2 linked regions of the Homo sapiens genome follow. The main gene of each other region encodes a partner of the protein of the gene in region 2 in a complex. Each region holds a gene or a part of one and is shown on either strand. Other genes may lie near its edges. The genes, in order: EXOSC2 and EXOSC5.

Evidence for each region.
Region 1: EXOSC5 (region 2) and EXOSC2 share a complex: the UniProt entries of both Homo sapiens proteins name them as parts of the RNA exosome core complex.

Annotation. Positions count from the first base shown.
Region 1 is NC_000009.12:130,696,732-130,700,641, reverse strand, and holds part of EXOSC2 (exosome complex component RRP4), read right to left. Parts: intron 3,061-3,910; coding exon 3,015-3,060; intron 2,481-3,014; coding exon 2,391-2,480; intron 1,314-2,390; coding exon 1,248-1,313; intron 1-1,247. UniProt on the Homo sapiens protein: Non-catalytic component of the RNA exosome complex which has 3'->5' exoribonuclease activity and participates in a multitude of cellular RNA processing and degradation events.
Region 2 is NC_000019.10:41,390,566-41,394,475, forward strand, and holds part of EXOSC5 (exosome complex component RRP46), read right to left. Parts: intron 2,416-3,910; coding exon 2,302-2,415; intron 1,398-2,301; coding exon 1,276-1,397; intron 1-1,275. UniProt on the Homo sapiens protein: Non-catalytic component of the RNA exosome complex which has 3'->5' exoribonuclease activity and participates in a multitude of cellular RNA processing and degradation events.

The sequences.
Region 1 (3,910 bases), on a different chromosome or scaffold from region 2:
CACACCTGTAATCCCAGCACTTTGGGAGGCTGAGGCAGGTCGATCACCTGAGGTCAGGAGTTCTAGACCAGCCTGACCAACATGGAGAAACCCCGTCTCTACTAAAAGTACAAAATTAGTCGGGCATAGTGGCGCATGCCTGTAATCCCAGCTACTCAGGAGGCTGAGGCAGGAGAATCGCTTGAACCCGGGAGGCAGAGGTTGCAGTGAGCCGAGATCCCACCATTGCACTCCAGCCTGGGCAACAAGAGTGAAACTCCGTCTCAAAAAAATAAATAAATAAATAAATAAATAAATAAATAAATAAATAAAATAAAGACAGAGGCCAGGCATGGTGGCTCATGCCCGTAATCCCAGCACTTTGGGAGGCCGAGGTGGGCAGATCACCTGAGGTCAGGAGTTTGAGACCAGCCTGGCCAATATGGTGAAACCTGTCTCTACTAAAAATACAAAAATTAGCCAGGCATGACGCACGCCGGTAATCCTAGCTATTTGGGAGGCTAAGGCAGAATTGCTTGAATCCAAGAGGCGGACGTTGCAGTGAGCCGAGATCGCGCCACTGCACTCCAGTCTGGGCAACAGAGCAAGACTCCGTCATTAAAAAAAAAGAAAAATTTAAAAAATAACATAAAATAGAGACAGAGTCTTGTTCTGTCACCCAAGCTGGAATGCAGTGGTGTGATCATAGCTTACTGTAGCCTTGAGCTCCTGGGCTCAAGCAACCCTCTGGCCCCAGCCTCCTGAGTAGCTAGGACTACAGGCATGTGCCACCACGCCCGGCTAATTCTTTTTTAATTTTTTTGTAGAGAGGGGGGTCTTGCTATGTTGCCCAGGCTGGTCTTGAACTCTTAGGCTCAAGCAGTCCTCCCTCCTTGGCCTTCCAAAGCGCTGGGATTACAGGCATGAGTCACCACACTCGGCCTGTCATTAATATCTTGACGTGAACAACACCTTCTCCACTCCCTGCGCTAAAAGTTAACACCATTAACAAAAGCCTAGTCTAAAGCACAGGCCACCGTAAGTTACAAGACCCAAAGAAATGACTTAGCAGCAGGTCCCAACAAGAGCTGGGGAGTCAGCCTGAATTAAGGAGACTGAGAAAGGATGCAGCAGAGCCCGACACTTGGTCTAAGACTCGGATCCCTGCAAGGATGACATGGTTCTTCCGTCAGAGACATACAATGGAAGGCCCATTTCCCAGTCCCACAGAAAAGCATCAAGAGGCTGGAGTGCAAAGCGCAGGATACACTGATAAGGTCCCCTTCCTGTAAGAAACCTCTCATTGCAAGCTCATCTTCTGCAGATCTTCTCCTCTGAAATACACAAAGAAATGACATTACTTAAGCCAGATCCTCAGAAAGGTCTCCATCACTTCTCTTTCACTTCCTTTTGAGATGTTTGAGGCCAACCACAATATTCAAGCACTGAGAACTATAGCAAGAGTAGGTAACCCAAGCCACTTGAGGGGAATCAGTGATAATCACGACTTTCCATCTCAAAAGACTTTTCCACAGCTCCTCTTCCTCTTTCCCTCCCTTCTCTGAGGAACATTCAGACCCCTCCCAATCTCACCTAGCCAACATTTCCATAGTCATCTTCCATGACAGCCCTCTGTGGTCCAGCAGGACCAGACTAACTCCTGCTTGGATATATCTCTGCTCATACATTTCCCTTTATCTCAGATTCCCTGAACTAGTCATTCAAAGTCTCTCCATCCTTCCAGGATCAACTCCAATGCCTGTCTTTCCTACAAGCTTCTCTCACTGAAATTTCCTTTTGTATAACCACAGCTTATTTATTCTTCTACTGCCAGGGACTAGGTCAGTTATCTTATATCCCCTGCTGGGGAACTCAATCGTGCTTGGCACTCGGCACAGAGCTTGGCACAGTAAGCCTCTCTGTAAATACACGCTGGACTGAAGATCAAGGTGAACCATGGCATTTTACAAAAGGCTGTGGCTTAGTTACTGTGGTTGTCTGGAATGCCAGCAACCACATTCCACACATGGTTGAATGAAATGCCTTTCAATTCACAAAAACCTAATGTAAAGACAACTTTTCAAGGAACATCTTCACTATGCAAGGCTGTTATATCCAAAAAGGAAAACTGTTAACAACCAGCATCTAAGGGCTTCTCTCCCCAACTCTCTGTTGGGATCCCACCCCATGGATGTTTCTGATCCTACCATATGCCAACTGCTCCCTCTTTCGGGAGACCTGGACAGGGTGAAAAGTCTACATACACATCTAGGCAGCAAACTTCACAGCAGACAAACAGGAGTCAAAGGGGCAACCTCAGTGTAAATCAAAGTCCTCTGGTGGAACAAAGGGTCCCACGGCTCCCCCCAGCCCACTGGGCCCTAGTCCATGGCCCCAGCTGTAGCCCTTACCAGCTCTCCTCCAGGAAGGTTCATGGACGAGAGCAGCAAGACCGAATCCAGCCTGGAGTTGGTCTCCACCTTCCACCTCTTCTGTTGAACCTATAAGCCAAGTTCCACACCTGGACACATGCTCCATGTTCATGTGTCATATCATAAATAACCAGTAAGGCCAGATGTGGTGGCTCACGCCTGTAATCCCAGCACTTTGGGAGGCCGAAGCTGGTGGATCACTTGAGGTCAGGAGTTTGAGACCAGCCTGACCAATATAATGAAACCCCATCTCTACTAAAAATACAAAAATTAGCTGGGCGTGGTGGCGGGTGCCTGTAATCCCAGCTACTTGGGAGGCTGAGGCAGGAGAATCGCTTGAACCTGGGAGGTGGAGGTTGCAGTGAGCCAAGATCATGCCACTGCACTCCAGCCTGGGCGACAGAGCGAGACTCCATCTCAAAAAAAAAAAAACATGAACCAGTAATCTGAAATCGAACAAGCCACATATTTACATCAGAAGCCACACAACGGCCAAATGCAATGAATGCCTTTTTCATGTAACTACAAGTGGAATGACTGTCCCATGAATGAAATCGCCAGCCTGCCTCGACTTTGTAAACACCAATCTGATATCGACGTTACCTCTGTGATTCGTCCCACTACGATGTCTCCTACTTCACCAATGTATCTGAAAGACAAAACACAAGGGGTTCATCCATCTGTGAGCAGACTTTCTGACAAGACCACACACCATTTGAGATGTCGGTTCAACAGGGTGAAAGCCTGGAACAGGCGCCACATTCAGCAAATTCATGTAACTATATTGTCTGGACTTACTTTCAGAAACTGCTAACTTCAAACATTCCTCCACGTATAAAGTCTCCATTAACTATCCTTAGACATATCACCATTCCAAGTAGTTCATTTAGCCCAAAAACCCTATTTTGTTCGATTACACGACAATGAAAAACACGGACTATTTTCCTGTGGCACATGGATGAGTTCTGCACCAGCCAAAGGAAGAGAAAGGAAATCTGAGCCAGGACTCCAACCACACAAGTCTGCTCACGTCTCCTCCACTTACTCACTGCCTGCTCCTCTCAAGCCCCTTTGCTAGTTCCTTACCCGCGATTCTAATGAGACGTACTCAGTGCTGAGGCTAAGTCCTTAGACCTCTTCACTTTTCGGCCACTCAATCTAATACCTTTAAAACACCACTCTGTGCTGTGACTGTGCCACTCTCCTGAATTCCAAATCCTACTCAACTGCTAGCTACCCAACTCTGCCATCTAGATGACTAACAGGCATTTTCAAATGTATCAAGCACAAAACTAAGCTTTCCCGCAGCCCCCTCCAGTCCTCCATAGCAAACCGAGATAGGGGATGAGTTGTCCCCATCTCAGTCAACGGTGACTCCATCCCCTCAGTTGCTCAGGCCAAAAACCTCGGAGAGTTCCTTGATTCCTCTCTCTCTCTCACGCTCCAGGACAAGTCCAGTAGCAAAACCTGTTGGCTCTACCCTTAAAACATATGCAGGA
Region 2 (3,910 bases):
GGGAGGCACTGGCAAAGCCAGGCCCGAAACTTGGGTAGCAGCCACTCCCCGGTGACAGAGCTGGCAGGGCAATGGAGGAAGAGCCACCTCGCTGCTGCCTGCAGGAAGCTCACAGTGGAAAGAGAGCACAGGTTGGGAGTCAGCTGGCTCTGCCTCAGTTTCCTAATGTGTTTCTTCTCCAGGCCTAGCAGCCAGACAAAGACCACAGCTTTAGTCAACCGGTTCCAGCTCTGCTGCTGATCCTCCACGCCTTCCTCTGGGCTTCACTTTCCACTTCTGTAAAATGGGGTCACAATACCTTCTCTCTCTGCCCATCCATAAAATGTCTGTCCAGTTCAGGGCCACGTTCCAGTAAAGCCTTCTACAGTGTCTAATTCTAGTCCTCAACCTCAACCTCTCGCACCTCAGACATGGAGATCTTACAAGGCCACGCTCCTGACTCAGCTGCTGTCTGCTCAGGGCGCCCCCAGCACTGAGGGCCTGAAATCCACTGAGGTGCCGAGTAGAAGTGATTGCCAGCCGGGCACAGTAGCTCATGCCTGTAACCCCAGCACTTTGGGAGGCCAAGGTGGACTGATCACTCGAGGTCAGGAGTTCGAGACCAGCCTGGCCAACACAGCAAAACCCCGTCTCTACTAAAAATACAAAAATTAGCCTGGCGTGGTGGCAGGCACCTGTAATTCCACCTGTAATTCAGGAGGCTAAAGCATGGGAATCGCTTGAGCCCGGGAGGTAGAGGTTGCAGTAAGCTGACATTGCACCACTGCATCCAGCCTGGGTGACAGAGTGAGAGCCTGTCTCAAAAACAAACAAAAAAACCCAAAAAACAAAAGAAGTGATTGGCACAGGCTCTGGAGTCAGACTGGCCTGGGCTTGAGTCCTGCCTGTGCTGCCTTCCAGCTGTGTGACCTTGGGCAAGCCCCTTCCCCTCTCTGGGCCTCAGTTTTGTCACCTGAAACATGCGAACATAAGAACACTCATCTGCCAGGGTCCGTGGGCTCTAGAACTAGACGGTCTGGGTCTAAGTCTTGGCTCTGCCACTTCCACGGGGATCATAAGGGCATGTGCTATATTACATGAGTTAATGTGCATAAGGCACACAGAACAGTGCCTGGCACATAAGTAAGCACCCAGGCTGTTTGCTCTCCTTCTTCAGTGAGCTGGTACCTGTCAAGTGTTTGAAGGCTTTCTGGCTAGCAGTGAGGGTATATGTATCCGCCAGGAGGGAAGCAATCAGGAGACTTCCTGGAGGAGGAGGCCTGGCAGAAAGGATACAGAGCCGGCATCGCTGACAACCTGCAGCACCACGGTGATGGAGGTGCGGGGGTGCAACGTGCCCAGCACCACCGCCTCGCACGTGTTCCTGATCAGCCGCTCCCGGCTCTTCTCTGCAACACCTGGGGAAATTGAAGAGAGGTTCAGGGTCTTCCCCTTCATTTGACTCACCTTCCTCCATACGCCTCACCCAAATTCCCAGAAAGGGCTCACGGTCTCAGCCTGGGATGGTGCAGTTACCTGCAGGGATGATGGAAGATTCCAGTGGGAAGAAGGCAAGGCCTGACTGCCATCCACTGACCCCTGCTACCTCCAGCATCCACCAAGGGAACCATCCAAGGGAAGAAGACCTGGGAGTTCCATGTCTGTGCTGCTACCCACGCCCACTCCCACCCTAGCAGGTCCAGTCAGTGGGGACTGAGGGATATGAGGGTAAAAGGGTGGAAAAACAGGTTAATGGTCCAGGCACAGTGGCTCGCGCCTGTAATCCCAACACTTTGGGGGGCTGAGGCGGGCGGATCACTTGAGGTCAGGAGATCAAGACCATCCTGGCCAACATGGTGAAACCCCATCTCTACTAAAAAAATACAAAAAATTAGTGGGCATGGTGGCACGTGCCTGTAATCCCAGCGACTCGGGAGGCTGAGCCAGGGGAATTGCTTGAATCTGGGAGGCAGAGGTTGCAGTGAGCTGAGATCGTGCCACTGCACTCCAGCCGGGGTGACAGAGCGAGACACTGTCTCCAAAAAAAAAATAAATAAATAAAAATAAATAAAAGAAAAACAGGTTAATGGAATGAATGAGAGTGGAGGCAGAGAGAGGGAGAAAAGAGGGAGGGAGAAATTAGAGGCAGAGAGAGAAGCAACAGAAGATGAGTTATTAATTAGAGGCGGAGAGTTAAAGACAGAAACAGCTGAGTGGAGACCCAAGCGGGGAGTGGAGACTCGGGGCAGCTGGTAGGGAGGAGCTGGGGGGGTGATTTTGACAAACTGGGCACCACTCAGAGGTTCAGCAGGGCCCAATTACCAGGCAGCCCAATCTTCGGCCTCAGGATCACTTCGAGTGTGGCCTTGTTGAAAATCTCTTTGCTGACCTTCACCTCGGCCGGCCCGTACACACCCGCCAGGACAGAGGTGTCACCTGAGGAGACAGCAGGGAGGGCCTCACTCACAGCTTCCCTGCTCCTGGGGCCCCATTTGTGGCACTGAGCCTGACGGCCAGGGCTCCCCACGTCACCCCCGCCATTTGTTGGTACTGATTCTTTGAGCACTCACTTCATTTCTCTCATTTGTAAAATGGGGAAAATAGCAGTCCCTCCCCGCTAGCGTCTTGTGAGGATCAAAGGACACAATTCACAGAAAACACTTAGAACACTGCGGGGCTCACGCTGAATGTGCAACAGACTTTAGCTGTATTAGTAACATTCGTCCATTCAGGCATTCAGGCAGGGTCTCACTCTCATTGCCCAGGCTGGAGTGCAGTGGTGCCATCACGGCTCATTGCAGCCTTGACCTTCTGGGCTCAAGTGATCCTCCCGCCTCAGCCTCCCAAGTAGCTGGAACTACAGGCATGTGCCACCATGCCTGACTAATTTTTATATTTTTAGTAGAGAGGGGATTTTGCCATGTTGCTCAGGCGGGTTTCGAACTCCTGGGCAACTGTAATCCCAAGGTGCTAGGATTACAGGCGTGAGCTACCACGCCTGGCCCTGATATTAGTAATTTTTTTTTTTTTAATGAGATGGAGTCTTGCTCTGTCGCCCAGGCTGGAGTGCAGTGGCGTAATCTCGGCTCACCGCAACCTCTGCCTCCCGGGTTCAAGCAGTTCTCCTGCCTCAGCCTACTGAGTAGCTGGGATTACAGGCGCGCGCCACCACACCTGGCTAATTTTTTTATTTTTAGTAGAGACTGGGTTTCACCATGTTGGTCAGGCTGGTCTCGAACTTCCTGACCTCATGATCTGCCCGCCTCCCAAAGCGCTGGGATTACAGGCGTGAGCCACTGTGCCCGGCTGGTATTAGTAACTTTTAACAGGAAGTTCTTCCTGAAAGCTAACCATCCTCCCTCTTACTGCAGCTGCTCTCAACTTCTCTTTCCAAAGCTTCCCCAGCCCAGCTCTTCCCTTAGGCACTGGCCCCCAAATTTTGCATCAGTCTGGACACCTGAGAAAGGGATAATATCTGGAATGAATCCTGATTCCTTATTTCCCCAGAAGCTATGAACGGGGTACAGGAGGTAAAACCTAAGAAATAAACAGCCTGGCTTCTAGTACTGTCTGCTGTAATCCCAGCACTTTGGGAGGCTGAGGTGGGTGGATCACCTGAGGTCAGGAGTTTGAGACCATCCTAGTCAACATGGTGAAACCCTATCTCTACTAAAGATACAAAAATTAGCTGGGCATAGTGGTGGGTGCCTGTAATCTCAGCTACTTGGGAGGCCGACGCAGGAGAATTGCTGGAACCGGGGAGGCGGAGGTTGCAGTGAGCCGAGATCACACCATTGCACTCCAGCCTGGACAATAACAGCAAGGCTTAGTCTCAATAAAAAAAAAAAAATACATTTTAGGCCAGGCATGGTGGCTCACACCTGTAATCCCAGCACTATGGAGGCCCAGGTGGGAGGACTGCTTGAGGCCA